Regions from separate parts of the Homo sapiens genome. Here all the other regions are linked to region 1. Evidence: fine-mapped expression QTL. A gene starts in region 1. Each other region holds a variant in brackets. All regions are shown on one strand. Distances are between the middles of the regions. Region 1 holds the start of PDHX (pyruvate dehydrogenase complex component X). Region 2 overlaps APIP (APAF1 interacting protein). Region 3 overlaps LOC102723568 (a long non-coding RNA gene). Region 4 overlaps PDHX (pyruvate dehydrogenase complex component X).

The links.
Region 2: its variant is fine-mapped to the expression of PDHX in iPS cells (PhLiPS, PIP 0.95).
Region 3: its variant is fine-mapped to the expression of PDHX in nasal epithelium (TOPMed, PIP above 0.99).
Region 4: its variant is fine-mapped to the expression of PDHX in whole blood (TOPMed, PIP above 0.99). The same link has a PIP of 0.9 or more in fibroblasts.

The regions. Positions count from the first base shown.
Region 1 is chr11:34,912,961-34,921,070 of GRCh38, forward strand. It overlaps PDHX (pyruvate dehydrogenase complex component X), which reads left to right and starts at 3,658. Exons shown (of 11, transcript NM_003477.3): 1 at 3,658-3,855. The coding sequence starts at 3,696. It overlaps APIP (APAF1 interacting protein), which reads right to left and starts at 3,419. Exons shown (of 7, transcript NM_015957.4): 1 at 3,268-3,419. The coding sequence starts at 3,324. RefSeq lists silencers at 3,080-3,419, 3,440-3,489 and an enhancer at 3,660-3,959.
Region 2 is chr11:34,878,197-34,886,306 of GRCh38, forward strand. APIP (APAF1 interacting protein) reads right to left here. Exons shown (of 7, transcript NM_015957.4): 6 at 5,141-5,308; 7 at 4,099-4,620. The coding sequence ends at 4,521. Among named protein-coding and RNA genes, the nearest start is that of APIP, 34 kb to the right of the region's middle. The variant CA/C (reference allele first, on the strand shown) is at 3,192.
Region 3 is chr11:34,859,869-34,867,978 of GRCh38, forward strand. The region is part of intron 6 of LOC102723568 (a long non-coding RNA gene); the gene reads left to right. The region is part of intron 1 of LOC105376624 (a long non-coding RNA gene); the gene reads right to left. Among named protein-coding and RNA genes, the nearest start is that of APIP, 52 kb to the right of the region's middle. The variant C/A (reference allele first, on the strand shown) is at 4,095.
Region 4 is chr11:34,990,547-34,998,656 of GRCh38, forward strand. It overlaps PDHX (pyruvate dehydrogenase complex component X), which reads left to right. Exons shown (of 11, transcript NM_003477.3): 10 at 1,769-1,833; 11 at 4,368-5,582. The coding sequence ends at 4,626. Among named protein-coding and RNA genes, the nearest start is that of MIR1343, 53 kb to the left of the region's middle. The variant A/G (reference allele first, on the strand shown) is at 4,740.

The DNA.
Region 1 (8,110 bases):
CTTCCTCCTGTATTCTCTTTCTGGTGGACCACCAGGCCCCAATCACTAGATCAGAAGCCTAAAAGTCATTCTTGACTTCTTTTCTCACTACACACATCTAATCAATAACCAAGACCTCCTGATTTTACTCCCTCACTCAGACCTACAGCATCTCTTGCTTGGATGCCTGCCACGGCTTCCTAGTCTGTCTCCATGCCTCTGGTCTTTTTAACTCTAGCCAGCAATCCCCAGGCCTTCTTCAGTCATCCTGCTGATTATCTCATTGCCCTTAGTTTAAAAATCTAAGATTTGCTTAACAGGCCCTTTAGGTCTGGTCCTAGTTTGTCCAGAATTGGTTCCTTCCCGTGGGTTCTTGGTCTCACTGACTTCAAGAATGAAGCCGCGGACCCTTGCGGTGAGTGTTACAGTTCTTAAAGATGGTGTGTACGGAGTTTGTTCGTTCAGATGTTCAGAGTTTCTTCCTTCTGGTGGGTTCGTGGTCTTGCTGACTTCAGGAGTGAAGCTGCAGACTTTCACAGTGAGTGTTACAGCTCTTAAAGGTGGCACGCAGGTTGTTCGTTCCTCCCGGTGGGTTCATGGTCTCGCTGACTTCAGGAATGAAGCCGCAGACCTTCGCAGGGAGTGTTACAGCTCATAAAGGTAGTGCGGACCCATAGAGTGAGCAGCAGCAAGATTTATTGTGAAGAGCGAAAAAACAAAGCTTCCACAGCCTGGAAGGTGACCGAGGGGGGTTGCCGCTGCTGGCTCTGGTGGCCAGCTTTTATTCCCTTATTTGGCCCCACCCACATCCTGCTGATTGGTCCATTTTACAAAGAGCTGATTGGTGGGTTTACAAACCTTTAGCTAGACACAGAGCGCCGATTGGTGCATTTACAATCCTTTAGCTAGACAGAAAAGTTCTCCAAGTCCCCATCCGACCCAGAAGCCCAGCGGCTTTACCTCTCACTAGCTTTTCTCTTTAGCTTCATCTCAAGTCTCTGGCCCCTACTTTATGTTCCAGAACACCAAACTTAATATGGGAACACACCATGTCTGTAATCAAGGACAACCCTGAGATTGTGTACATGCTACTTCCCCTACTTGGAATATCCTTACTTTCATTGCATGTGGTTATGTCTTCCTGATCCTTTAGGCCTCAGTAGATACTTTCACTGTTTCCTGAGGTATTCTCTAACCCATTCAAGTGTATACTCCTAAACTACCTTGAACTTTCCCATCTAAGTCATATCGTCATATGTCAAACTATGTCATGTTGTCATACCATCTTTGTCTCTTTGCTAATTTGTCTCTTCCACTGTACAGCATGTTCTAGGGGAGAAGGAACCAGATGCAGCTTGCACTTATAAATCCACAATGCCTGGCACATAGTAGGCGCTCACTAAATATTCGTTGAATTAATCACTTACAGTTGAACATTCCCCTTCCTTAAGGCCAAAGAGACTGTCTCTTTCCATTGCCCATGACCCCCTAAAACTACAATGAAATTTTATGACTTCTTAAAACTTTTCTTATTGCTGTTTTTATGTATTTGTACAAAACCAGACAAATACAAATATCTAGAGGGGCTCATGTATTTAACTAGATATGCAAATCCAGTGTGAGTAGTGGAAGCTGTGGTAACCTGGCCAGCACCCTCTGTAAAGGTGGTGTTCACTAGTAACCGCAATCCAGATCCCATGAAAAAATAAGGGCCCAATGTCACCATGTGTTCTGAGGTTTTAAAAGAAGCTGAAATGATTCTGGATTTTGAAATGTTGGCTTGGCAGGGCGTGGTGGCTTACACCTGTAATCCCAGCACTTTGGGCAGCTTAGGGGGGTGGATCACCTGAGATAACGAGTTCGAGACCAGCCTGGCCAACATGGTGAAACCCAGTCTCTACTAAAAATACAAAAATTAACTGGGTGTGGTGACATGCGCCTGTAATCCCAGCTACTTGGGAGGCTGAGGCAGGAAAATCGCTTGAACCAAGGAGGCAGAAGTTGCAGTGAGCTGAGATCACGCCACTGCACTCCAGCCTGGGCAACAAGAGCAAAACGTGTCAAAAAAAAAAAAAAAAAAAAAAAAAGGTTGGCTCAAATTTTTCATGAACATTGAGTGCAGCAAAAAAAAAACATGCCTGTCCACCAAGCTGTCTGTGGGCCATGTTTGGTTTGAGAATCCTAGTTTATTCTCGGGTCCCTTAAGGCTCTCTTTGATGCTCATTCTGATGACATTACACTAAGATTTACTGATTGAGGGTACGGACACTTCTCCATACACACTTGCCCAGGAACGATCTCCAGTTACCTGTCCTGTCTCCAAGATCTTCTCTCTCTCATCCAATCTTGCCTATGCAGCATTCTATTTTCAGAGTCGTCTTTGCTAATTTGGGGAAGTCACTTATTCAAACAAGAAAGTGGTTGACAAATGTTTAGCAATGAAATCTCCCGCGAGTTACTACTTTTTAATTAGGATTTTCAACCCTAAGAAAGATATAGATAGGAGGAATAAGATAGGGGGAATAAGGAAACTAATTTTGAGGGGTTTCCCTGCCTCTTAGGTGGGGTTTATCATATTGTGCTGAAACTGCTTATTCGTCTAGTTCTCCAGACCCTGGGCCATTTATCTTACGTATCCCTATCTCTGAGCGTGTAGAAGGCGCTCCATAAAACTGTTGGTTTGTGTAAATGACCGAAAACTACATGCAGCGTGAGGGTGGATTTCCCTTTGACTTCGGCTTAAGGAAGAATCGTTCCCATGATCATCCCACAATTCATCTAAACGGAGATAGGCAAGGAGCAACTGCTCAAAGGCAAAGCGCTGGCAGCTGAGGCACAGCTCCGGTTCGGCAAACGTCTCCCGAGTGCCAAACGTCCCCCCAAACGCCTAACTGGTCGTCAGGGCGCAGAAAAGAAGCTTGGGGGGCGCGGTCTTCGCCCCAGCTCCACTTCGGTGCTTCACGATTCCTTCTCTGGCCTGCCTTCCTGATAAATACCCGGTGAGGTCACCTAAACGCTCTCCTCTCTCAGTTATTTGCTTCTTTCCAACGTTTGGCGCCCAGCTCCCGCCATCGGAGCGCCCCGCCCGAGACCACTGATCTCCTGGGGCCTCGCAGCCTTGCTTCCGAACGCCAAGGTCGCGGTGCGCCGGGGTAGCGAACGGCCAGGCCCGAAACCCCGCCCCGCAGCTAAACGCCCGGCCCGCTACCCTGCGCCCAGCTCCAGCCGCCGGGTCCCGCCTGGGCCTCTCCTCCTGGGAATACCGGGCACCGGTGGCCCCGCCCCTACCTGCGCGCCGCATCTCCGGGAACAACAGTCTCCCTCCCGAGCATCACAGCCAGACATGGCCCAGACCAGGGACCCGCGCGGCCTCCAATCTCCGCACGGCTTTGCGCGCGGCGCTTAGCCTGGGATACGGCAGCGAGGCCGCAAATGCAATCAGGCGGCGCTGAGGGCAGCCCGGGGGCGGGGCGAACGGGGCGGGGGCCGGGGTCTGGTAAGGCCCCGCCGGCTGAGATATCCAGCGGCGCACCTGACTTCCCGGGAGGCAAGGCCAACGTGGTTGGAGGCGGGGCTGGGTTGGGGGGCGGGGGTTCAAGTCTGAGAGACCTAAAGGCACCGCTAGCGTCTGGGGGCGTGGCCAACCATGCGGGAGGCGGGGCCTTGATGCTGGACATCAGGCTGTGCTGCGGGCAGCCAGTGAGAAGGCCGTCAAGATGGCGGCCTCCTGGAGGCTGGGCTGTGATCCGCGGCTGCTGCGTTATCTTGTGGGCTTCCCCGGCCGCCGAAGCGTAGGGCTGGTGAAGGGGGCTCTTGGGTGGTCTGTAAGCCGCGGAGCTAATTGGAGATGGTTTCACAGCACGCAGTGGCTTCGGGGTGAGTGGCCGGGGCTCGCTCAGCTTCTCTGTGTAGCTGAGTGATGGGCCTGGGACAGGGGCAGTTATGATTGAGGGCCTGCTTTTGGGTGTGAAGGTGCGCGGGCTCCTTATTCCCTTTCCTCTTTCTCCGGTTGGGGTCCGCCGACTTGGCCTAATGCATGCTGTGAAGGGCTTTCTTGGCAGCTGAGAGAACTCGACTCTGCCCTAGGCCCCCTGGTTTGTATGGCTTTGTGACCTTGCCTTGGAATTTGGGTTATTTGTGAGGCGCAGAGAGGGTTCCCAAACTCTCCTCCCTCAGCCCCCTTTCCAATCAAGGCTCAGGTTTCTTTAGGGTTGTCAAACGTCTCGGACGAGAAAAAGCTGCCCAAGGTTGCCGAGATTGAAAAGCCACTGTTGGGAGTTCTTACTTATTCTCTAGGCCTCTCTCTGTTAGGAGGTGTTTTCATTGAGGCCAGTCGAGTTTTACCCCACGCCATGACTCGTGGAAGACTTAAATTTGTAAATTCCTACGGCATCACGATAGACAAAGGTCCAGGAGAATGTTTCAAGCAAATATTCGCTTGAAAGAGCAAACATTTAGGAGATAAATCATACCAAAAATTTATTATAGAAAATTGTTGTTTAGTAATGATATTGATGCAGTTAACACAATTCTTGCAGTATTTAACAGTATGCAAAATGGCAGGCCGGGTATTATTTTTCCTTATTTTGGGAGAAGGTTGGAGGGAGGCGGGGATGGAGAATAGGACTGACGTTTTTTAGTGTGACGTATTACCTGCCAATCATCGTTCCTGGCACTCTACAGAATGAATTTTAATTTAAATAGGTCTAGTAGACGTTGCCTTCATATTCTGAGCTACCTTAGGCTCAGAAAAAAAAAATCACACAAAGTCATATGGTAAGATGAGTGTATTGGGGTTCCTAAAGGTTCCTTAATGGGAACAATTTATTTCATTTTTGGTGTAATGTTTCATAACATATTCCTTGGAGCAGAGGTGCTTTAACAGTGTGTGCAGAATTCCTTCTCTTCCCTCCTCCAAGTTTGTTGAAATTAAACTTTTTTCCAGCTCCTAGAGATTCGGTCTGGTCTGGTGTGGGGCTCAGGAATCTGCATTTTACAAATGTTGGATGAGTTTTGATGTTTTATTTTGACATTTAATGGAATGAGCTTTGAGACTCACTGCCTTAGAAAATCATGGAATATTAAAAGTTTAGTATTGGATATAATCTAGGAAGAGTGCTCTTAATCTTGTTTATCAAGCAGATCCTTTTGAGAATCTTTGAAAATGTTACAGACTCTCTGTACAGAGGAAGTACCATAAATGGTCACACACAAAAATGTGCACGTAGTGGCTCACGCCTGTAATCCCAGCACTTTGGGAGGCGAAGCTGGAAGATTGCTAGAGCCCAGGAGTTGGAGACCAGCCCGGGCAACAAAGTGAGACCCCCGTCTCTACTTAAAAAAAAAAAAAGAAAGAAAAAAAGCCAGGCGTGCTGGCATCCCAGCTACTCCAGGGGCTGAGGCAGGAGGATCCGTTGAACCCAGGAGTTAGACGTTTCATTGAGCTATGATCCTGCCGCTGCACTTTAGCCTGGGTGACAGAGTGAGACCCTGTCTCAGGAGAAAAAAAAAAAAAAGTATACATAGGCCCAGTTTAATGCCTTTAGAAACTCAGTTAGGCAAGCAATCCTTATCTGCATCCTCATGATGCTTTTTTACCTATTCCCTATCCCCTAGACATATACCATGAACAACTTGTCTACCCCAGTTTGAATACCATCTGTCAGGAAGAAGGCATGGCATCTCAAGGAAAGCCAAATTAGTTTTCTAGTGCTGCTGCAACAAATTACCAGAAATTAGTGGCTTAAAACAACACAAATTCACATCTCATAGTTCTAGAGGTCCGAAGTCCAAAATGGATCTAACTAGGCTAAAATCAAGCTATTGGTAGGAGCTGCATTCTTTTCTGGAGGCTCGAGACCCCATTCCCTTAAGTTTTCCAGATTCTAGAGGTTTCTAAGATTCTTTGACTCATGGGCTTCAAAGTCAGCAATGGCTGGTTCAGTCTTTATCACATTACGTCACTCTTAATACTCCCCTCTGCCTTCTGCCACTTACAAGGACCCTTGTGATTACATTGGGCTCATCTGGATGATCCTGAATATTTTCCCCATCTCAAGGTTGAGTAGAAACCTTAATTCCATCTTTAACCTTAATTCCCTCTTGCCATGTAACAGCATATTCATAGGTTCTGGGTATTAGGACGTGAACCTTTTGAGGCATGGCATTCTGCATGTGAAGCTGTGGAAAGTATTTGGAAATACTAAGTATTTGGAAGTGTTGGACTTTTTTCCTAATACCGAGCCAAAATATATCCGCTTCTGACTTTCACCTACATACAGATTTTTGTTTTGCCATGCCGAAAACACGTGGCAATCCTTGAACTATTTGTTTTACAAACTGTGAATTTACGGTGGTGTTTTTTCTCTGAGCTTGGTAGAAACTGTAGTTTTATAAAACTAAACAACTATTTGGATTACTGTAAACTATATAAATTAAGTACATTTATTGAACTGTTTCGTCTTTCACACAAATATCTTTAAAAATTTGTCAGTCGGAACTACCTTTGGAGTTTTAATTTCCTTAAGAGGTGCTGGCAGCATTTTTATGAGCTATGACATATGCCATTTTCTTAGCACTTTCTAGAATTTCTCATTCACTTCTCACATAACCTAGTAAAGTTGGCATCATCTGCATTTAGTTGGACAAAAACACCAAGGCTTAGAGAAATTGAGTCTCCTAAAGACATGTAACTGTGTTGATGAACTGAAGTGCATGTATATATTTATATACATATATTAATTTGTTTAACAAATCTTTAATTTGTATCATTCTCTCAACAGATTTATTGAGAATGCAGAGACTATCTTTTTTACCACTTACATTATTGAAGAATGAGTGAAGAAATTAGCATCTATTAGGTGCCAGGCACATGGTACCCTGCTTGGGAAGTAGTGGCCAGCTGAATCAAACAGATTCTCAGTATTTGCCACATGGCACATTTAATCATACTTAGCTCCTGGACATGCAATCCAAAATTCTATATAGGGCTGATCCTTAAGGTATTTGTAGTCTCTTTGGGGACATAAACAATAAAGGTATGATTTCAATAGTGTATACAGTAAGCTCAGAGGGGGTAAGTTTGAAATGATCAGGAAATAATATATAAGGCAGCTTCTTAGAGGAAGAGGTGACAGCCCTTACAGGCTGAAGGAACAGCAGAAACAAAGACCCAGAGACCAGAGTGATCATTATATAATTGACACAGCATCTGTAAACAGTTTTTCAACCTACTCTAGACAGTTAACTTCAGAGAGTTTAAATTGTGGTCCTTTCAGAGTAGGTAGCATGATTTGGAATATAATTGGTAAGATGTTAATTAATAGTATTGGTTTTAAGTTGTCTCTGAAGAATAACATGTTGAATTTAAAATAACCTGTGAATAGAAAAGTAACTGAGGTTCAATCTTGGTGGCGATTTGCCTAGTATATAATTATAGGCAATACATATTATAGATGTTCAATAAACATATCTAAGGAAGCTAGTAATCTAGGAAGTTATAAAAGAACACTAGAGCCTACAGTAGGATTCCAAGTTGGCAGCCAGGGAACTGACCCACATTGTTTTAGCAGAAAAACTTATGGCAAAATTTTAAAATCAGGAGACTTTACAGAGAAATCTAGATTTTTGTTCTCTCTTTAAAATTGATAGTTAAATCCTATGTGGTGACAATTATCTAACACTGAGTAATGATTGTTCTTTTTAGGTAGGAAATTGCTTCCTACTTTGTCACTATGCCGCCTACTCTGTATTACATCTTAGCAAGGCTGAATGTCCCTTGGTATTTGCATCACCTCTAGTTGTCATTTTTTTTTCTTGTACTCTTATCTCTACGGAAGGCAGAAGACAAAAGACCAAGAAAAATGGGAGAAAGCAGATATTGTGTATATGTGTAAAGGAGGAAAATGCTTATCCATTTAATATGAAAATAAAGGATGTCAGAATCTAAAGAAAAAACCTGAAGATGCTAGTCCTCTTCTCTCACCTGCCTGTTTTTTGTAGGCATCTGAGTTTTTGACAGCAGTGCTATAACCAGGAGAGAGGGAACTTCTTTGATAGAGTTAATGGTATGGTATTTCTGCCAAAACACGGATACTCTTTTAGGCCTGGTTCTTATTAAGTGCTTATACAC
Region 2 (8,110 bases), 35 kb before region 1:
ACTCTTCCCAATTCCTTCCTTTAAGATGTAATACATTACTGATTTATTTATTAACCACCCCATCCATTATTAACCACCCCTTCTATTCTGTCCCAAACAGGAATTTAAGACTTTCTCAGTCCTACTCCATTAACAACAATAACCAATTATGCCCCATAACATAAAAGTTAACATGGCATTCATTCTTCTTAGGCTCAATTCTCTTACAATGGAATTTGGAGGAGGTTACATAGACACTTCTTTTTACTCCTCAATCCCATTTAATATTGCTGGAGAACCAAGAGTCATTCATTCAACATTTATTGATATTTACTTGCTAACGAAGGTTTACAGTAATATCCCTTGAGGGATAAAGATTTCCTACCCAGCCATGGGCAGAAATATTCAGCACCCTGAGGATGCCTACTCCATTCTCTTGCCTGTTGGAACCTTCTTTGGGTGTCCTTTAGATCATTTATATCAAACAGATAAGCTTACAGATGGTCATCAAGGCTTTGACTAGGAGCATTTGACACCAACACAGCACAACTTACTGTTTCATAAGTTTACTCCTTACACTAATGTAGTTTTTTTTGGTGGGGGTGGTGTCTAGGGTATTTTGCTTTTCACCCAGTTTTTATCAAACAATGCAAGCCTAAATGAGCATAAGATTATACACATATAACACTTTTATGTTTAGAGCATGGGAAAGACATGTTTATTAACAGAAAAGTTTAACCATGCATGAGTAAAGAGAACAGATCCTAACTGTCTAGTGGGTTCCAATCACAATGTATTGAGTTATTTTAAAGTTAACCTAAAGGGATTGTATACCAGGAAAATAGTACTTTTCCTTTGCTTGTATTAAAAGCAATAGATGCAATTAAACCTGAAACTGACAATGAACAATTGTGAAACCAATGGAAAAATTTGCAGATGATTTAAAACACATTGTTCAAGATAAAAGGCTGGTGATGACTTGATCAACATCCTCAAAAGAAACAAAACATGATTATTTGAGGACGTGGATAAACACTACTGAATAAATGAAATAATCTTAAGTTCACAAATCACATATACAGCACTATATTTGATGGGTTATTTTAAAGGATTTTTTATGATAATTTTGACTACTGGAAATTTTTACTTAACTTTCAAAGCTCTACTGTATATATATATATAAATTTTCCTGGTTTCATCTCCAAAGATGTGGTCCTTATTGCAATAATGAAGTAGGAAAAGTAAAAGGTACTTACTAAAAGTATGAATAAAATAGTAGAACATATTAAAATTTGTTAGAACCCTAAGTCCCTAATACTCATATCAGAAGCCAAATATACTTTAAGAGCATATTTGTGTTTATAACTTAAGACCACAAAAGAATACCCATTTCAGTGATTATTATCCAAAACTTGGTGATTCAGTGCTTATAAATTACAGATCAGTGAAATGGAAACCAAAATCTGTTTTGTTTTGTTTTGTTTTTTGAGATAGAGTCTTGCTCTGTCACCCAAGCTGGAGTGCAGTGGTGCGATCTCAGCTCACTGCACTCTCCACCTCCCTGGTTCAAGTGATTCTTGTGCCTCAGCCTCCGAAGTAGAGGGGACTACAGGTGCCTGCCACCATGCCTGGCTAATTTTTAAAATATTTTTAGTAGAGATGGGGTTTCACCATGTTGGCCAGGCTGATCTCGAAACTCCTGACCTCAGGTGATCCGCCTACTTCAGCCTCCCAAAGTGCTGGGATTACAGGCGTGAGCCACTGTGCTGGGCCTTGTAGTCCTGCTTTAAAGAAACTTGGTGGGAGAATTCAAATTGCCTCTTGAATAGTGATGTCAACATTATTAGTTCCACATCTGACCATCTTGACTAGAACTGCTGATGAGACATGGCAAAATTTTCTCAAAAGGGAGGTATTTGAACAAATTGAGATATAAAATGAAACACTCCTTAAGATTATGACTTTACCTTTCGGATTTTGGGACATTCTCTAGGGAACTATGTTATTTTGAAGTATCTCTCACAAGAAAGTTGGGTGGGACCAAAAGCCTCTAGAATCATTTGAGAAACAAATGATAGTCCCTTATTCAATCTGAGAGTGAATGGCATGTCCTGCACTTAATGAAATAAAAAATGTGTTTGATCTAGATCTCTTAGCAGTTTAATCCTGCATTCATAACCAAATTTTCCTCTTATTTAAAGAAGCTGGAATAACTGAGAGAACAACAATCACAAGGGCATGTGAAGAAGAATGCCTGCTTCCCCCTCCCTCATTCACTGAACACCTATGTGGCAGGCACTGAGGATTAGCTCCCAGCCTGGATTTGTATTCATCTTTGGACCTTGGCTCCTAGCAGTCACACAGGAGGGATCATATTCTTAAAAAAAAAGGATATTAACTAGGGGATACAGCCTTCCACCAGCTGTTCCCCTACCTCTAAAGCAGGTTTTGCAATCTTTTCTGCACTCCCAGGAAAGAAATATACAACTGGAGATGTGCTGCTGCTGCTGTATAGTTTAAATGGTTTACCTGCATGACAATTACTTTGAAGATAGCTAGGTGAGGGGTTTTTAGGAAAGGAAGTTTATATTTTGAGTGCATACATAGTATATGACAGGTACTGTGTTAAGAAGTTTACCTGTTTTCTCTTATTTAAATTCTACATATTTATTATTCCTATCTGAGCCTCAATTTTCTCATCTAAGAAAATAGGTACAATATCTATCTCAAAAGACTATTATGAGGATTAAAAGGGATTTTAAAAAACACTAATATTTATTGAACATCTACACTGGATTAAGCATTGTGGTTTGTTCCTCCACATACTTTATCTTATTCATTAGCTGCATTTTAAAATGAGGAAAATGAAATTAACCAGAGGTGGCTAAAACTATTTTTCCCCAGTGGAAGAACCTCCGCCAAGAATCCAGAAAACAGGCTGGGGGCAGTGGCTCATGCCTGTAATCACAGCACTTTGGGAGGCCGAGGTGGGCGGATCATTTGAGGCCAGGAGTTTGAGACCAGTCTGGCCAACATGGCGAAACCCTGTCTCTACTAAAATACAAAAATTAGCCGGGGGTGGTAGCATGCCTGTGATCCCAGCTACTTGGGAGGCTGAGGCAGGAGAATCGCTTGAACCCAGGAGATGGAGGTTGCAGTAAGCCAAGATGGTGCTACTGCACTCCAGCCTGGGTGACAGAGCAAGACTGTCA[CA/C]AAAAAAAAAAAAAAAAAAAAAGAAAAAACAAACAAACCCAGATACAGGCAAGGTTGCAGGGAAAAGGGAACCCTTACATAGTGTTGGTAGGAGTGCAAATTAGTTCAAACATTGTGGAAAGCAGTATGGCAATTCCTCAAAGAGCTAAAAGCAGAACAACCATTTGACCCAGCAATCCTATTATTACTGGGTATATACCTGAAGGAATATAAAGCATTCTACCATAACGACACATGCACACAAATGTTCACTGCAGCACTATTCACAAGAGTAAAGACACGGAATCAACCTAAATGCCCATCAGTGACAGAATGGATAAGGAAAATATGGTACATATACACCATGGAATATTATGCAGCCATAGAAAAGAACAAGATTATGTCTTTTGCGGGAACATGGATGGAGCTGGAGGCTATTATTCTTAGCAAACTAACACAGTAACAGAAAACCAAATACTGCATGTTCTCACTTCTAAGTGGGAGCTAAATGGCAATAACTTATGACTACAAAGAAGGAAACAACAGACACTGGGGTCTACTTGATGGCGGAGGGTGGGAGGAGGAAGAAGAGCATAAAAGATAACTATTGGATACTGAACTTAATACCCGGGTGATGTAATAATATGTACAACAAACCCCTGTGACATGTGTTTGTCTATGTAACAAACCTTCATGTGGGCCCCCAAACCTAAAATTTAAAACAATTTTAAAGAAAGGACTTTCTGATTACATCATCGGTTTGATCAAGATTTGTTTGGTTAAGGGAATTTGAGTTGATACCACCTGACCTGAATTTCACAACTGATCCCAATATAAAATGAGTGTCCTGTTGTAGACCACAGGGAAACACTAAAGCTAATAGGGGAAATCTATAAAATTATTTTGACATTAACATTGAGGGATAAATTTGGACTTAATGTTTCATATTTATTTTCTGACACCAACATTAAAACAAGAGAATGCTCATTCCACAATGAGGAAATTTTCTAATGAATTTTATTATCACCAGCATCTTTAAAAATTAAGAGGAATTCTCTGAGAGTATATATAAAAAAGAAATTAAAGGCAAATATTTTGCTGTTAAGGATTTAAAAATAAACAGAAACATAGAGTATAAAATTTTCATTTCACTGTGCCCTCATTTAAAATTATAAGAATATAAGCAAATAACATCCAATGTCAGAAGAGATTCAGGGTGACCATTTGCAGTATTTAGTGGCAAATTAGTAGCATCATGAAAAATTTCAATTCATTTAAAAAAATAGCTTTCATTTAAATAATAATTACGTTTAGCTTTATCTCTGTATATAATTAGACTTTCTTTTGGCTTAGACAATTCCATTTTCTCCAACTGGGAGCTGTGAAGGATCAAGTCCTACTTTCTTCATTGATACGGCAATATCAAATAAATAGTCATAACACTCACACCTGTAAAAGAAAAAGCAAAAAGAACCAGTGTTTATCGAAACAGAGTTCTCCAATCCTAAAGAATCACATTTCTCCTCTCTTGCAGTTAACTCTGCTTTGTTCCTAGTATGTATTTTCTCTCAATTCTAGGCCAAAATTCTATTTTTCCCTCAACATTTTTAAAACACAGAAAGGAATCATATTAAGTCATGCAACAATATTACATACCTCTCAGGAAATAAAAGAGAGTTTAAAATATACTGCCTACATAAATTTACATTTTTTTTAAACTAGATGTCACTTTCTGAAATAGAACTTTTGTAACTTGGGATCTGTGTCTTCTTCCTCTATCAACATTCCTAGAGCCTTGCCAAACAACAGCTCATCCAATCAATACTTCTTCATGAATGGATACATAATAAAAATAAAGTATCTACAAATAATGATAAACAATTTAAATTTAAACCAACTGACATACTTTGTTTTCCTTCACATTTAGCGGGTGGTAACTTGTTCCCCATGTTCTCTGATTTACACTCACATGGTTTTGGCCTTCTCCCATGTTTCCCCCCACACATATACTCCATGACGTCTGACCAGTACTGCACAGGAGTCTGGGTATTCATTCATTGCATGAGCCATTCTATCTTTGAGGTCTTTCTCCTCAGGTGTATTCTCAATAATGGGTACCACTAACATATCATCATATCTGTAAGACAAAACAAGCCATTTTTTTCCATTAAAACAAATCAAGCATTGATATGTATACAACATGTAATTTTTTCAAGTAACCAGTTAGACATGCTGTTTGTGTCTGAAAAGCCACTCCAAATTATGAACAGGATGTTGCGTGTTATTCTGTGTACCTTGTATAAACATCTCTATCAAAAGGTACCTTGGGAATGTGGCAGGCTTGGTCTAATCCTAAGCCTAAGTGGTGGAAATTTGTAAAATATACCAAAACCTAACAAAGAAATCATCAAGATCATATAAATGTTTCCTTGAAGCAGGGACAATCATAATATTTATACAAGGAGATGGCAAATGATATATTTCAGAATCAGAAGCATAGAAAAGATTAAAAATTGAATTATATATTAAGAATTTCCCAATTAATACAAAATCACTGTATTTCATTTCTGCAGAATCCCAAAGTATCTGAGATAGGCAAATCAAAAAACACAAGCATGGTTTGTGGCACTAGGACAGCAAGAATGTTCTGGAGATAACTCTTAAAGGTACGACGCTTTCAGAACATTCTCAAATCTGTAGCATTAGAACTTCTTTTACTTCCACTGTCCTCTCAGGAAATACATGTGATGAAATCAGAATGTAATATTTAAACACATAATTGTCACTGGCAAAATTAAGTCTATTCTTGCAAAAACTCAGATAAGCTTTCCTTTTTACATGAATTTCTCTTGTTTTGTTAATGTAACATCTGCTTTTTCACTACTTCTATAGTGCTAAAAACTTAAAAAAAAAAGTTCTAGCTAAAGTATTCTGCAATTGCTACTGTAGGGCAAGCACAGACTAAGTAGTCATCATGTGACTGATAACTTGGCCAACCATTATCATTAAGAGTATAGAGTTGCCCATCACTTCACTTAAGTAAAACAGAGGTAATTATAGACTATCCTTAACTATGGCTAGGTGCATTGGCTCATAGCTATAATCCCAGCACTTTGGGAAGCCAAGGCAGATGGACTGTTTGAGCTCATGAATTTAAAACCAGCCTGGCCAACATGGTGAAACCCCATCTGTACAAAAAATACAAAAATCAGCCAGGTATGGTGGTGCATGCCTGTAGTCCCACCTACTCGGAAGACTGAGGTGAGAGAATGGCTTGAGCCTGGGAGGCGGAGGTTGCATAAGACAAGATCGAGACACTACACTCTAGCCTTGGCGACAGAGCCAGACTTAGTCTCAAAAAAAAAAGAAAAAAGTATCCTTAAATATTGAAGGAATGAATTGCTAGTCTCAAATCTTTCCTAATATTGGCCGAGAGAACCATAAACATATTTTTCTCTAGCATGCACTCAATAGTCAGAAATATTTTCAGGAGCAAAATAATTTCACAGCAAAGTAAGAACTGAAAGCGAATTCAAGCCAGTCCTCCCACTTTACAAACATGACACTGATCCAGACAAGTTAAATGAGAAAGAGAGCCAGGATAGCCCTTTGACCCTCAAAGAGTATTGTTTTCACTGTACCATAGAGACATTGCTTCTGAAAGGGAGTACAATTATAATATAAAGTTATGTATATGTATACATTATACAACTATAATATATGTATACATAGTATACATGTATATTATATATATTATATATACCTATATAATGTATACCTATATATGTATAGGTATACATGTATAACTATATATGTATATATATACCTATATAACTATATATGTATATTATATATGTATAGTTATACATGTATATATAACTATACATATATAGGTGTATATATATACATATAACTATACATATAAAGGTATATATATACACATATATAGGTATATACATATACATCAATGTCAGACCACAGATATGATGGTGGTCCTATAAGATTATAATGGAGCTGAAAAACTCCATTATACCTGCACAGACCTGGTGGACTGAACAAAGGGGGCGAACGTGGGAATAAAAGATAAAAACAAGAGAGTACGTTTGGAAGAAGAGGTCGGGGGCACCTTGCCTCTAGTGGACAAGGGCCCCGAGCTGTACACAGCCCTCCGTATTTATTGGTAAAAGAGATAACGAGAAATGGGGGGCAATTGTCGGGCAATTGTCAGTCGGCCACTTTGGTTCACAGCAGGCTTGCAAGACTGCATCCTTTGAACAATAGGCTCTAGATTTCTCAATGGATAACTTCAAGGAGCCCGGTGCCAGGGAGTGATGTCCCTCAGCAAACCTTTTGGTGGCAGGCGCAGTGTGAGTTTGCTCACATCCTGCATTCATGATAAACAGTTTGCTGTTTGATCATATAGCCTCCAGTGGAATGCTGAGTTGATCACGATCCCTTTGGCCTTTTTGGCTCTCAACAACTCCTATCGCCTAATGACCGCATAGCTGTCATAGGGTCACAGCACAACATATTATGCAAATGTCTGTGGTGATGCTGGTGTAAACAAACCTACTGTGCTGCTAGCTGTATAAAAGTACAGCACATACAATTATTACAGTATGTAATACGTGATGATAATGACTATGTTAGTAGTTTATGTATTTATTACTCTATAATTTTAAAACACTATTTTAGGGTGTACTCCTTCTACTTATATGGTTTTTAAAAAGTTAACTGTAAAGCAGCCTCGGGCAGGTCCTTCAGGAGGTATTCCGGAAGAAGGCACTGTTAGTTATCACAGGAGATGACAGCTCCATGCATGTTACTTGCCCCTGAAGACCTTCCACTGAGACAAGGTGTGGAGGTGGAAGGCAGTGATATTGATGACCCTGACCCTGTGTACTCCTAGGCTAATATATGTGTTTGTGTCTCAGATTTT
Region 3 (8,110 bases), 53 kb before region 1:
ATAAGGATGCAAAAGACCAGAGTGCCCACTTAAGAGAGACTATGTTTAGACCTCTCAAGGAATAATTAATAAAGGGAATCAAGGGTCAAAGATTATTTCAACTGACAAGTCTAGGCCCTTCTCATTAGTAAAAACTGCCCGGTTGCCTTGCAGTATTTTCTTTGCCAGGAGACAACACCTATCCTAAATGTTTAAGTGACTTCTTGTTGGGCTGGTTTCGGAGGATTAAGCTCAGTGTAATTTCATCCTTCCCAGGTGTGAGACACTTGCGTGTGCAGTAATATGATTCTGTACTGTCAGGGAAAAGAGTGTGTCTTTGTCAGCAGTGTTTGGCAGTCAAACCCCTGAATCATGACCTCACTTTCAGGTAATCACTCTTTGCAGGCTTAAAACCCCTGGCGTTACCACTTGCTCTTATGCTGAGAGACTTAAAGGTTTGGCTGCTGGCACGTGGTCCTGCTGGTCAGCAGAATGGAGATGATCTGTGCTGGCAGCCCAACTGGACTTCAGAAAGCATTCCCTCCCCAGCTGTTTGGATTCAGTTTCTAAGTGCTGAGCAATACCATCTCTATGTTCAAGAAGGGCAAAAACCAAAATGAGTAGTAATTATTTGGATTTGCTTTAGCCTGTAGTTAGATCAATTCTTCTTCTGATGCTTTGGGTAATGTCCTCAAAATGATTTCCTACTGAATGTTTACAATTTCAACATGTAATACATACTCTGGATAAAGCAGTAGCTCACAAATCATCTGATCAACAAGGTGAATCCTATCTCTGTCTTGGTCCACATGGAGACTAGCACATGTGATTGACAGGCAGATAAGGGCCGTATTGTCATTTGGTTGCACCTGTCCATATGGCGAGGGATCGGAAATGAGAAATGGCTGTATTCTAAGCTGGGGATTATAGAGCTGTGTTACTCTAAGTCTTACTGTCTTACAGTAGCAAGGAGCAAGAAGAGTCTTGAAAGAACGGAGCCTTAAATATCATAGGTCAAGCCCTATAGTTTCACAGATGAGGAACTATTGCCTCAGAGACAGAAAGCAACTTACACAAAATCACAGAGAAAATGCGAGTGGCCTTGCTGGGGTTAGAGTCAAAGTTTCCTGACACCCATCTAGTGGTCTTTCTGCTACACCTTTTTGTTTCCACAGAGTTTTACTGACCCCTGTATTAAAGAAAAAAAAAAGATAAAGGAAAAAAAGCCTGTTTTGGCATGGTCCCTTGTTCTATGGTTTAAGGTCAGTCTTGTTCTTCAGCATCAGCACTTTAAGGTTTTTTTTTTTTTTTTTTTTATCAGAAGTCTCTATATGGTTAGCCTGAACCAGATGAAATTGCTGCTTTTATGAGGCAAAAAGTTAAATATAGTAAATTTCAGATAGTTCTACCTGAGAGTTTTTCATTTAGAAAGTGGCAGTTAATGCCGGGCGCGGTGGTTCACGCCCGTAATCCCAGCACTTTGGGAGGCTGAGGCGGGTGGATCACGAGCTCAGGAGATCAAGACCATCCTGGCTAACACGGTGAAATCCCGTCTCTACTAAAAATACAAAAAATTAGTCGGGCACGTGGTGGCGGGCGCCTGTAGTCCCAGCTACTCGGGAGGCTGAGGCAGGAGAATGGCGTGAACCCGGGAGGCGGAGCTTGCGGTGAGCCGAGATGGCGCCACTGCACTACAGCCTGGGCGACAGAGTGAGACTCCATCTCAAAAATAAAAATAATAATAATAATAATAATAATAATGATAATAAATAAAAGGAAGTGGCAGTTAACATAGTTGTCCTTGAATTTAGTAAATTAGCAAATCATGTTCTCTTATTGGATTACTTATTAACCAAACCCTGTCCCCTAAACCTATATGGATACTTTCTACTTTTCCCTTTCTATCCAGAGGGAAACATAAAGCAATGTAAGAGGAATAGAGGAGGCTGACCATAGCTAAGACTTTTGTAAGGCTGCCAAATATAAGGTATTGCCAATGTCTCCTGTGTTCTTGGCCATTAAACTTTAAGATATCCCTTCCTTAAGTCCACTATTTATACCACCAAAACCAGGTCCAACTTCTTGATAGTACATTCTCATAGCACCTCATAGTTCTCTCTTGTAGCACTTCTACTTTTTCACTTACTTCTAAGGTTATTTTACTAACTTCTTCCAGATCTATGAGGGCAGGAACCTGACTGGTTTGCTTATGCTGCACTTGGAGCACTTAGCACAGAGTCCAGCATACTCAGCAAGTATGTGCTGAACGAATGAACAAAAGTCAAATGGTCTGATTTATTTCTGTCCACCCCACTTGGTGAACCTTATGTCAGAACATTTTTGTTTATTTATTTATTTGTTTGTTTGTTTATAGACAGAGTCTTGCTCTGTCACCCAAGTTGGAGTGCAATGGTACAATCATAGCTCACTGTGACCTTGAACTCCTGGGTTCCAGTGATCCTCCTGCCTTAGCCTTCAAAGTAGCTAGGACTACAGACACACACCATCATGCCTGGCCCAGAATATTTTGTTTAAATTTAAATCCAATAATGGAAATCTGTGAGAAAACCCAATCATGTCACTTGGAGAGGCTTACCTGTCACAGGCCAGCCAGTGACCTACACCAGGTGCCAATGAACTCAGGAGGCAGGGCTCCCCTTGAAATTTCTTTGTATGTCAATGAGACTAATATGTAGGGTAACTTAGAATTTGGATCTTAAGCTTTCAGGGACTTTAAAATCCATCAGCAAGATATCCTCATAAACACTTGGCCATCATGCTTTCCGACTATTGGGAAGAGCATTCTGGAAGTCCCCATAACCCCCCTGGCTGGTGCATATGAACACACAATGGGCCAAAGGAAAGTCCAGCTACGTGGACATCAGCTGGTAGAGCCACTTCAGCAAACAGAGGCAGGAGTTGGAAGTGAGAGGGGCAGAAATGGAAAGTCTGGTCTCCACCAGTTCATGAGGGTCAGAGAAGTTTGTGTATATTGGGTCAGAGTTAAAAACAACTGGGGTGTAATAGAAGGTGCTCTATAACAGATCTGGGCTGTGGGGAGGTCCTTAGATTTTTGAGCCAAACCAGAGCCTTCGCCCCTTGTCACTGACTGATCCCTTTTTGAAGAAAATTACCTGACCATAAGACTAATCCATAAACTGTCAGTGATCTAGGAAGGCCAAATCCACACAGACTAACCTAGATGCTGCCCTACCTGCATTCCAGAGTGGGGCCTGATATCATACCTGATGTTCTTGGAGAGAATGAGACTTCCAGTGATTTCTTGGTTTGCCTATGCCCAGGCACAGAGAGAGTGATCTTTTCCCAGAATAAGTACAGTGTGACCTGGTGCCTTAACTGCTCTTAACCACCTTACACTTTTCTAGTCAAGATCATTATCTGCAGGCTGGGCATGCTAGAAAGCGGAGTCTTCCCTACTGACATCTCAGCAGGATTTATGATCCTCTCTGCTTATGGAACATGAGAAAGCCAGGCCTTGGGGTACAGCTGAGACAGAATGCTTGCTTGAGAAACCAGCTCATCAAACAGGACTTACTTGAAATAATTGATCTAGGCTTCAGTTGAAATTGATAGTGGCGTAGACAGAATTTCCCGTGTCTGTCTTTTCATTTCCAAACTTCTTCAAGGAGTAGTCTATGTGGCTCCTCAAGGTCTTCTCCTTAACCCCCTAACATCTGGCTTTCATTTTTCAGTTGTCTTCCCCAGGCCGGGCAATCTATGCTGTTGGATCTAGGTTGGTTGGAACTTTCTAAGATTGCTACTGTCCTTGTCTTGAAAGTCCAATTAAAGGCAAGAGGAAATATTTTGCAGACTTCTGAGTTGGGTTGAATCTGATGCTTGATTTATTTGAATGTTACACTGATTATGGGAGAGACAGATTCCAAATTAGACTTCTGAGTTGGGTTGAATCTGATGCTTGATTTATTTGAATGTTACACTGACTGTGGGAGAAACAGATTCCAACTTAAGACTTCTGAGTTGGGTTGAATCTGATGCTTGATTTATCTGACTGCTACACTGTGGGACAGACAGAGTCCAGCTCAGCCCCACATTCTGAATTGTGAGAACCAAGATATATACTTCGTTTAAATTTC[C/A]AACTGTGTGACGGACCGCATTCTCTAAATTAATAGGTAGAGGCATCTGAACACCAAATTGTAGCCCTAATTTGTTATAACTAAAGTCCCCTTTGATTGTGCCCTTTCTACATCTTATCAGAGGGACACAGAGTGGAAGACTGTTAGTCTGAGATTAACAAACACTGGAAGGTTATATGAGAAAGCGCGTGTTGGATTTTAAAGTTAAAGAACTTTAGGCAAATTTCTTAGAGTACACCAATTCTCCTTTTTGCCAAATTCAAGAGTGAAACAGAAAACAAAATTTAAAAAACAAACTACTGTTTATTAGGCAGTATACTTGACACTTTGCATATATTATTTTATTTAAACAACCCTTAAAGGAGGCATTTTTGTCCCCACTAAAGGAGATTTGACCAAGGTCACATTACCAATAAATGGTGGAGGTAGGACTCAAAGTTAGGCTTTTCTGAAACTAGAGTCCATGTACTTAACACTACTATACTGCACTTTTTCCCGTCAGTCTTATTCTTGCTTTTTAGCAGCAGATGATATTTTACATTCTCTCTTCTTTTTGAAACTCTCACAAGTTAAACTAAATGTTATGCTCCTCCAGTTTTCCACATACTTCCTCTTTCTCCATTTCCTTTGTTAGTTCCTCTTCTCTCTCTTGCATTCCAGAATGTGCCCTAAAGCTTAGTGTTTCTTCACACCTTTGGAAAGATGACCTGTACCCAGGGCTTCAATTTACACTTCCACATCCCACCAGACTCTGAATTTCAGGACAATGGAGACCCGATCTATCTTATTCACTGGCAAATTCTTAGCATCTTGCAGAGTGCCTGATACATAGTAGATGTTTAATAGATGGTCAAATGAATGGATGCATGAACTACAGATCTGCTGATAATTCTCAGATACTCTCCTGAAGTCCAGATACATATTCCTAGGTAACTACTAGATCTTTCCTCCTTAGTATCTTGCTATTGCTGTGAAATGGTAGTAAAAATTTGGTGAAGCCATTGAGGGTTTCAGCAATTTACTGGGGCTACCACACCAGCTGGACTCTCTCATGTTTCCCCAATGGAGGTGGCTTTATTACCAAGCTGGGATATAGACCTTCTACAGAGGAAAATGGCAGCCTGACTCCTTCCAATGATATGGGTTTGAGCTTCTTTGAGAGGGTCCCAGTGCAGCCTCTGGTTGGAGTCCTTGCTAAGTAGACATGGATAAAAGATGGTTGGATCTGAAGCAACTAGTAGCTCATCTGGGGGTGACAATACCACCACATTCATTTGGGTCAATGCATGCTAGTGTTAGCTGCCCAGGGAAGAGTTAATTCCAGGTGAAGTGTAGGCATGGAAGAAGAATGAGCACATAGTTGTGAAGAGTCACAATCCTAGCAGGGCCTCCAGATCTGTCTCCTGGCTGCCTCCTCCTGCTTTGAGTGCTCAGATATTTCCATGAAACTTGGCTGTAAATGCCAAAGTTGGTGGTTGTCCGTAATTACCAGGGGTGTGGTTCACTGAGCATTTGCTTAGTCTGAAATAATCAAATGACTTCTTGTGGGAAGAATGAACAGAGAGAGCCTTAGAGGCTGGATGACCTCTACCTGCTGAGTCACCCTGCCCACCTAATTGCTTCATACTATTTCTGTACTATGTGCTTCCTGGTGGGCATTAACATGTGATCAAAGATCTTCGTACTTCACGCTTGCTATAATATCTATTCTCACACTTTCTACCCTAAGACAATTTGATTCCAATTTCCCAATCTTTCTTCTTCTAGGCCCCTGATCAGCCAGCCAGGCCATTTGCCACTGCCAATGAATCTATAACTTTGGGCCATTTCTTTCGTCCATACAAAGTGGGTGACCAGATTCATCTCTTGAACTCTTTCCATTGGAAGAATTTTTCCCTGACCACTATCTTTCAAGGCCACCCCTGAGGGGATGTGTAGAGCAGCTGCTGACCATTTTTGGCTTGCACTACATACTGCTTGCATTACCTCCTGAGCTCCACCTCCTGTCAGATCAGCAGCGGCATTAGGTTCTCATAGGAGTGTGAACCCTATTGTGAACTGTGCATGCAAGGGATCTAGGTTGCATGTTCCTTATGAGAATCTAATGCCTGATGATGTGTCACTGTCTCCCATCACCCCCAGATGGGACCATCTAGTTGCATCTAGTAGCTCAGGGCTCCTGCCAATTCTACATTATGGTGAGTCGTACCATTATTTTATTATATATTGCAATGGAATAATAATGGAAATAAAGTGCACAATAAATGTAATACACTTGCATCATCCTGAAACCATCCCCCTCACCCCATCTGTGGGAAAATTGGCTTCCATGAAACTGGCCCATGGTGCCAAAAAGATTGGGGACCACTGGGTTTGACAAAACCCAGTTCATGATGATGCGTGTTCTGGATGCAGGGTCACTTGGTGCATTAGTTAGGGTTCTCCAGAGAAACAGACCCATAGATGGACACACACACACACACAGACAGAGTGGGGAAATAGAGAGATTTATTGTAAGGAATTGGCTCATGTGACTGTGTGAGCAGGCACCACCAGAATTTACAGAGCAGGCCGGCAGGCTCTCAGAAACACACGGAAAAGCTGATGTTGCAATCTTGTGCAATCTTAAATCCAAAGACAGTGTGAATGCAGAATTTCTTCCTCCTCAGGGGACCTCCAACTTTTCCCTTAAGGTCTTCAACTGATTGGATGAGGCCCACCCATATTATGGGGGTAATCTGCTTTACTCAAAGTCTACTGATTTAAGTGTCCATCATATCTAAAAAATAGCTTCAAAGCAACATCTAGACTGATGTTTGCCCAAATATCTGGACATTGTCGCCGGGCCAAGTTGGCATATAAAATTAACCATCACCCTTGGTATCTCAGAGGCAAGTTCCATATTTATTACGGCCCAGTAGCACACTAGAGTTTTTCAAAAGGCAAATAATTCTTCCTTGCAGATGGCATGGCTTTGTTCCAGAAATCTGGGATCTGCATAACGATTGTCCCACTGGGACTCACCATAAACTAACATGACATATTTTCCCACCACCGGTACTCAAACATCATACGGTCTTCTGGGTCACTGGCTCAAATGTTCAGGAGTTACTGTAGAACCCTTTTCTGCTCTGGGTTCCCTCAATGATGGTAATTTTCAAGACACCCAGCACATGGACCGGAGCCGCATTCCCAAGTGTGAAATGTGCTGACTTCAGAACCTAAAGAGGTCTACAAGGAATTGTGCTTCCTTTTTCCTAATGGGGAGCGCAAGATGTAATATCTGTCTTTCACTTTGGGTGGGATATGCTAGCATGCCCATCATCATTGGATCTTTAAAATTTTCGCTGATGTTGAGCTTCTGAATCTTCCTAGGGCTTACCTCCCACCTCTGGAGCAGATGCTAGCTGGTTCTTGATCATTCAGCCATTTAGCGCCATGTCATCAATGTAGTGGATCAATATGAGGTCCAGCGAGATACTCAGAAAGCCCAAATTTCCTCAGACTATATTACAAGAGTGAGAACTAACACAGCCCTGGAGAAAACTATAGCTCTGTTGCCTATTTCACATGAAACTAAACTGTTTCTGGTCTTTTCTTTTTTAAGAGACAGGATCTAGCTCTATAGCCCAGGCTGGAGTTCAGTGGTACAATCATAGCTCACTGTGGCTTCTAACTCCTGGGCTCACGTGATACTCCTGCCTCAGCCTCCTGAGCAGTGGGGACTGTAAGTGTGAGCCACTACACCTGGCTTCTGATCTTTTTTTCTGATAGAAATGGCTGGCTCCATGCTGTGTACCCAAAGCCATGTTCACCTGCTCTAGCACAGGTGCCACATCTGGCACAGCAGCTACAGCTGTGTTTGTGTAGTCTACTCTCATGCTCCAGGAGATCCATCTAATTTCTGGAGGGGTCCAGACTGGTGAATTAAGTGGAGATAAAATGAGGATCTCTACTCTGGCCTCCTTTAGATGCTTAAGGGTAGCATTAATTTCTGTCATCCCTCCCAGGATATG
Region 4 (8,110 bases), 78 kb after region 1:
AGGATATGTTGAGATCATCTGCCTTTAAAAAATGCCTTTTAAAGTTCATATATGTGTCTTTTCAAATCATGTGAACAATTACATTGCTTAAGGGAGGAAAAATGCTTTTATAGATTATTCTCTCTCCCGTTATTCCAAGAACTGTATAAGTCAAAATTCATCTCATTTTTTACCTTGAATCCAAATAGTTTTATAAATAACCACATCCAAATAGCATACACCTGTAATTGTTTCTGTTGGCAGTACGTTACAGTAATGTGTTTTTAGATTTTTGATATTTTTAAAGACTTTCAATTTTAAAAAATTAAATCATCTATGAATTAAAGTTAGTTATCAACTGTGATTGTAATAGTGCCTATGTTGCCTATGTAATACAAAATATTAAGTAAATTCCACATTTATTTTATCTACCCAAATGACAGTGACCTCATTTTTCTGTACCCTTCCTCTTAAGTTAATTCGTTATTAATTTTTTATATATGATGACTCAACCTCTGTTCCCTTGCTTTTAAGCACTGAAAAATAAAAATTAACAGAAATGTGGTTAATTCCAAGTACAAGTGAGAGGAAAATTTAACTAATATGTCATCTGTCTTGTCTTCTGTAAGATTTTTAGAAATCGCTGTGGTCAAGAGTGATATGAATCAAGTACATCCTTATATTCCTTGTGGCAGTGTAAATTGGACTAGCTCATTCAGGAAATGATTTAGCTATAGGATCAAGAACCAAAAGAAGTCTATTCTCTAGGGCACTATAATTCCACTTCTGAAAATTTACCTGAAATAATTCAGAAGAAACCGTGAACCAAATTATAACACTGGGAAATAACCAAGTAAATTAGGCAGGTGCAGTCTTTAGGAACAAACATTAAAAAATCATTTCTGAAGGCTGACAACACAGAAGATACATATAATATTGAACAATTAAATATAAAATTTATTTTTTATAACCATTGTGTGGGGTTGAGATTGTGGATAAAGATGAAGCAAACTCTGAAAGATAAAAACGGAATGTTGGTTGTGGGATTGTGGGTATACTACTTTGGTTGCCATTGGATAATTTATTTAAAACACACAGATTGGCCAGGCATGGTGGCTCATACCTGTAATCCCACCACTTTGGGAGGCCGAGGTGGGTGGATCACTTGAGTTCAGGAGTTGGAGACCAGCCTGACCAACATGGTGAAACCCCATCTCTACTAAAAATATAAAAAATTAGCTGGGCGTGGCGGTGGGTGCCTGAAATCTCAGCTACTCAGGACGCTGAGGCAAGAGAATTGCTTGAACCTGGGAGATGGAGGTTGCAATAGGCCATAATCACACCACTGCACTCCAGCCAGGGCAACAGAGTGAGACTTCTCAAAAAAAAAAAAAAAAAAAAAACTAAAAAACACTAGATTGACCAGAATGGATTCTTGTATTTTTTTTCTTACCATAAAGTTTTATAGGCAAAATAGAAAATTTCATTTTGCATATAGGAAACTCTAAAGCATTTTGCATAATAATTGATGGTACACAGGGTAATTCCCACATTTGAAAAATTGTTAAAGGAAGTGATTTTTCTAGAGTTTTGATTAACAGCTTTAGTTTCTTGAATTATCTGTGCTCTTGTTTGTTCTTATAATTAGAGAAAATTATTTTTATATAGGTAACAAAATCAAATCAAGGCATATCAGAGATGAGAGTATATGATGTACAAATATTTCAAGTGACAAGATCAACTGTATAACATTTTGTTGGTTGTCCTATTCTGTTTGTATTTTTCTCAGGCTCTATCAAAGAAAGCAAGAGATGGAAAATTGTTGCCTGAAGAATACCAAGGAGGATCTTTTAGGTAAAATTTAAACTCTTAATTATCCATAGCATCAAACAGATAGATGTAAGACTTATAAAGTCCCTGTCAGCCTTTCATTTATCTGAAATATTTTTTAAAATTTAAGCTAAAAATACTTTATTTAGACAATAGAATATCTGAAAAAATTCTTCAGACTAGTCAGGCTTTCATATTAAAGCTAGTAGGAACCTATTAGTGTTGAACTAAACGTTCGTTGGACATTGACTAACATGGAATGATAAATATTATGTATTCTTTAGTATCTGACCCACCCCCAATATTAATGTCTGTAATATTATATTGCTATGTGAAACAACCACTTATTTATTATTGCAGCATATAATATTCTATTGTATAAATATACCAGAATTCATTTTACTGTTGGTGGGCATTTGCGTTGCTTCCAGTTCGGGGCTATTACAAATTATGGTGCTATGAACATTCTTATTAGTGTCTTATAGTGAATGTATGTACATTTTTTGTTGTATAGACCTAAAAGTAGAATTCCTAAGTTAGAAGCTTTAGCAGCTACTACCAAACAATTTTCCAAATGGTTATACAAATTTACACCTCCACCAACGGTCCTGAGAATTCCCATTGCTCCACATTCTTGCCACTATTTAATAATGTTAGGTTTTAAATTTTAACAATTCTTGGGGTGTGTAGTGGTACTCTTTGTAGGAAAATGCAAATTAGTGATGTTGAGTACTTTTCACTCATCAGCCGTTTGGGTATCTGGTAATTCATGAGATAAAGTACCCACTGCAATCTGGTGTCCATTTAAAAAAATGATGTATAGTTCTTATTTCTGGATATACAGACCTTTATAGGATATATATTGTTTCAAATAGCTTTCACACTCTGTGACTTGCCTTTGGGACTCTCTCGGTGATTTTTTTAAATGAACGGAAGTTCTGAGTTTTAATGAATTCCTATTTATCAGTATTTTTCTTTGTAGTTGGTACTGTTCATTTTCTGTTAGGAATTTTTGCCTATCTCAGAGTCATGAAGTTACTCTTCTGTGTTATCTTCTAAAAGCATTTACGTTACTTTTCACATGTAGATCACAATTCAACTGAAATTGGATTTTGTATATAATGTGAAGTTTCAAGTGCTCTTTTTTCCCCATATGGATACTAAATTTACACAGCATCATGTATTGAATATTGATTTCTCCTTTTTCATAGCATTGAAAAGGTGATTATATATGTGTTGGTCTAGTTCTGTGCTATTTTTTTTCCACTGGCCTGTTTGTCTATCCTTTGTTTACTACCACCAAGCTATAACTCTTGATAGCTGGTAATGAAGTCTTCCAATTTTGTTCACCCTCAAGATTGTCTTCTGGCTTTTCGTATTTCCAAATAAATTGTAAAATTGATTTGCCATTTTTCACACACACACCCCTTGCTGGTTTCTTGATTGGGATTGCATTAAGTCTTTTGATGATTTGAGAATTGACATCCTTACAGTATTGAGTATTCTAACCTGTGAATATGGTAGAAACCATTGTGTATTCAGTTATTTGATTTCTTTCAGTTATGTTTTATAATTTTCTGTGTAGAGGTCTTGTATATGTTTCATTAGATTTATTCTTTGGTATTTGTTTTTTGATACTATTATAAATGGTATTGTTTTAAATTTTTATTTTCTAATTATAGCAACTTGTATGTAGAGTCATGTGCCACTTTATGATGGGGATATGAGAAATGCATTGTTAGGCAGTTTCATCATGCAAACATCATAGAGTGTACTTACGCAAATCATGCAAACATCATAGAGTGTACTTACACAAACCTAAATGGTACATGCTGCTACACACCTTAGCTGTATGATATAGCCAGTTGCTCCTAGACTGCAAACCTATACAGCATGTTACTCTACTGAATACCGTAAGCAGTTGTGACACAATGATGAGTATTTGGGTATCTAAACATATCTAAGCATTTTTAAAATGTACAGTAAAAATGTAAAAAGTAAAACATGGTACACCTGTTTAGGGCACTTACCGTGAATGGAGCTTGCAAGACTAGAAGTTGCTCTGGAAGAATCAGTGAATGAGTGAATGCTTAGGACATCACTATACACTACTGTAGACTTTATAAACACTGCACACTTAGGCTACACTAAATTTATTTTTAAAATAAAGTAATTGCAATATGATGTTATGACAGCTATGATGCCACTAGGCAGCAGAAATTCCTGAGCTCCATTATAATCTTATAAGACCACCGTTGTATATGTGATCCTTCGTTATGTGGGACATGACTCGATATAAAATGGATTGTTATATTGACCTTTTATCTGATGACTTAACTAAATTTACTTATTAATTTTACTAGTTATCTATAGTCTCATTTTTCCTGTGTACACAATTAATTTATTTGTAAATACTAAATGTTTCCTTTTTTCATTACTCATATATTTTTTTCTTGCCTTACTACACTGCCTAGTAAAATATATAAAATATGTGCTTCACGGAAAGGGGACTTTGATTAAGGACATGCCTCCTTCAGAGCTTTTTCTTTTCCCCCTAGTATTTCCAACTTGGGGATGTTTGGCATCGACGAATTTACTGCAGTGATTAACCCTCCTCAGGCCTGCATTTTGGCGGTTGGGAGGTTCCGACCTGTGCTGAAGCTCACTGAGGATGAAGAGGGAAATGCCAAACTGCAGCAGCGCCAGCTCATAACAGTCACAATGTCAAGTGACAGTCGAGTGGTTGATGACGAACTGGCAACCAGGTTTCTTAAAAGTTTTAAAGCAAACCTAGAGAATCCTATCCGACTTGCCTAGTCCTCAAAGATAAGAAGTTGGTGTTCAGCTTAGTTGATTCAGTAGTTGTTACCAAGAAACATATGTTATAGGAAAACAACTTGGTATTTAAGTATGAAGTGGATGAAATGTTT[A/G]TTTATTTAAGGTGAAAGCATTTGACCCAGGGTGTCTTCATCTTCAATTTGGGTTTAATGTTATAGAAATAAATGATGATAAACTCTAACTAATAAAGGAAAGAGAATATTTGGTTACTCAGATCCATTTTTAACCTCTGGTGCTGTATAAAGGGAATATTAAACTAGATGTAAATCAAAGTATATGTTTGGCTCATTTGAGCATTTTGGAATATTTGAGAATGTATGATACATGTAAAATTAAAAAAACTATTAGAACTGTACCATAATTATGTTGAAGGTAGAAGTGATCTTCAAAGAGATGGCCATTAACTTAGCAGTGGGACCTCACTTTTACAAGCACTGCTCTAGATATACTTGAAGAATTTAATAGGTACAGAAGTTTATTCTGGATAATAAATAAATAAGGATCACACTGTATTAGGGGTTATGGCAACATTATTGAATTTTTTATGTACATAAAGCCATATGTTTAGGGTGGTTTCTATCTGTCTTGTTTTTCACTTATATAACACTGTGAACTTCTAAAGCAAGAGGATAAAAGAAGCATGAATGAAAAGAATGACATTTCAAAAAAATGGTTCAATGAAAAACTATAGCTAAAATATGTAAACCTTTCTAGGTAAACCGCTTGCCTTCATCTTGAGTCGGAATATATTTAAATAAATTGTGTTATCTCTTGCCAAACATTTTGTTAGTGTTTATTTAAAAACAAAATGTTGTTTCTTAATGCATTTAAATCAGTTTTGTATTGTGCAGTAAAATGTGAGAAAATATAAACATTTCTATTGTATTTTAAATGTTAAAACACAAAAGTTCAATAAACCTTGAAGTTGATTAGTAGTTTTTCTAGAACACCTTTAAAAGGGCTCTACAGGAGAAAAGACGGAATTTAAAATTAGTATGACATTAGGAAAGTAACTGATAGGAAATGTAAAACTTTGGAAAGAGAATAGAAGACTTATGAAGCCAAACAGATGAGAACTATCCTTTTTATTTCACTAATATGAAATTTTCACTAATTATTATAAAGTTTAGAAGAGTTTGTTTCTCTCTTTTGGCAGCTCTGCTATAACTGTCAAGATAACTATATTTAAGTTGGATGGTAATGAATGGTAATTTAATTAACTTGTCACAAAAAGGTTTATGTTAGTGTCAGCTGACATGAATCAATAGAAGAAAGGCTAATATAGTACAAGTTGTATGGTATGACATGATGAATTATAAACCCTAACAGAAGAGCCTTCTAAAATAATTAGCACCCTGGTGTATTAATTGTTAAGAAAATGCTTAATCCAACTATCCAACTCAGTTTAACAAGCCATTTAAAAAAAATAGTCTTCAAAACTTTTGTCATATTAACAGTTACACTGAAAATTATAACCAAAGGCTATTTTCAAAATAATTTTTATGTTACATTATTTCCAAGGTCAGTTTTAATCGAAATTATTATTATTATTACTACTTTTTCTTGAGATGGGGTCTTGCTCTGTGGCCCAGGCTGTAGTGCAGTGCTGGGATCACAGATCACTGCAACCTCGACCTCCTAGGCTCAAGTGATCCTCCTCCCTCAGCCTCCCGAGTAGCTAAGGACTAAAGGCATGCACCATCATGCCTGGCTAATTTTTCTATTTTTTTTTTTTAGAGACAGGGTCTTGCCATGTTGCTCAGGCTGGTCCCAAACTCCTGGGCTCAAGTAGTCGACCCACCTTGGCCTCGCAAAGTGCTGGGATTACACAGGCATGAGCTACTGTGCTAGGCCGTTGTTTTTGTTGTGGTTGTTGTTTGTTTGTTCATTTTAATTTTTATATCTGAGGAACAGAACATGATGAGGCAGCCATAAATAAGCCTGACTCAGAGTTCTGCTTTTCATGAACTGACGTACATAAGCAGTAGTGCATCTGTTTCCCTATAGGTGAAATGGGCATTAATATTTACTCAGCCTGCCTTAGAGAGTTGAACTGTACAAGGGAAATCGCTGTATAAATTTAAGATGTTTTAATTCATGGACCTCACAACCAGGCTTTTCATATAATCACCTGCCTCTCATGGTTTGACTTCTCAGCTTCTGGTACAAATGCTTGTTCATTCTGACCAAAAATATTGTCTCTGGTATTTCTATACTGATGAGGTGGTTTAGATTAAGGAAGTTTTCATTTCTAAAAAGAATTTTGTTGTAGTTTGAGATCAAAGAATAACACTGAGAAAGGAGTATGGTATACTTGGTTTGAACTGTGTGCTACACTACCAGGCCCCTTCCACATTATACTACTAATTTATTTAAAATAGATAGGTATCACACTGAGAGGATATAAAAAAAATTTCTGCCTCTTCATTTTTGTTTCTTGTTTGAACAGAAAAAATGACCAAAATATTGGGAGTACTTCTAAGGAAAAGGCAACACACATTCCAGTTAACACTTGGATGTGAAAATATCAATGAATATTAGAATTTATAAGTCAAACTGGCTCTGCTCGCTGATTGCAATTTTTAGTTACATTCACTATTTTGTGCTAAATTTAAGTCATTGGTATACGACTGGCCAGAGTCCTTGGTTTTAAACATTACTGAGAACTTTATATATACTCTTAATGGGTATTTTATATAATGTCGAATGAAACTTTTATTTTTAGATTTTTAAAAAATATTTTGCACTTTGGACTTAATTTTACACTAAATTGTATCAGCCAGCCTAAGGGCATTATGCTAAATGTAAATCTAGTTCTTGGTTAAGCTTTTATTGAAAGATAGGTGGTGCTGTAAGTTAATATATTGTAGTGAAAGTGTGGGAGAAAAGTTAAATTGGCACTTAAATCTTAGTTTTCAAGGAAAACGTGTCCCGCACATACTGCATTATGATGGACTTTGTCTCAGGTGAAGTGAAGAAGTGAAAGAATCAAGTGTATGGCCGGTAAGAATTAACCATTAATTTAAATGGGATGCTATTAGTGGGAAACTTTTACTGATTTTTGAAGAAGGAAGTAACAGTGCAGATTTACTTTTATCAGTCTGGCCATAATGTGCAAGTCAGTAGGTCAAAACAGGGAGAGGATAGCAGTCATCAGAAAAGAACTGGAAGATTTTGCCATAATGAAAGTATAAGTTGATTAGGATCTGCACTAGGTCAGTGTCTTTAAAGAAGGAGGAAATGGGTAAAAGTTGGCATGTTACCATGCTATGAGGTGTCTTATGAATATATGGGGTAGATGTATTCAGTCAGATAATGCAGGAACAGTGATAGAATTTCCCATCCAAAACACTAGTCCTCCATGGCTCACGTTCACCAATATGAAAACGAATAAGATTCCAGTAAGTTATGTACAGCAAATAGTGTATTTCAGTAGACATTTAAACTTTTTGTGAATGGAAAA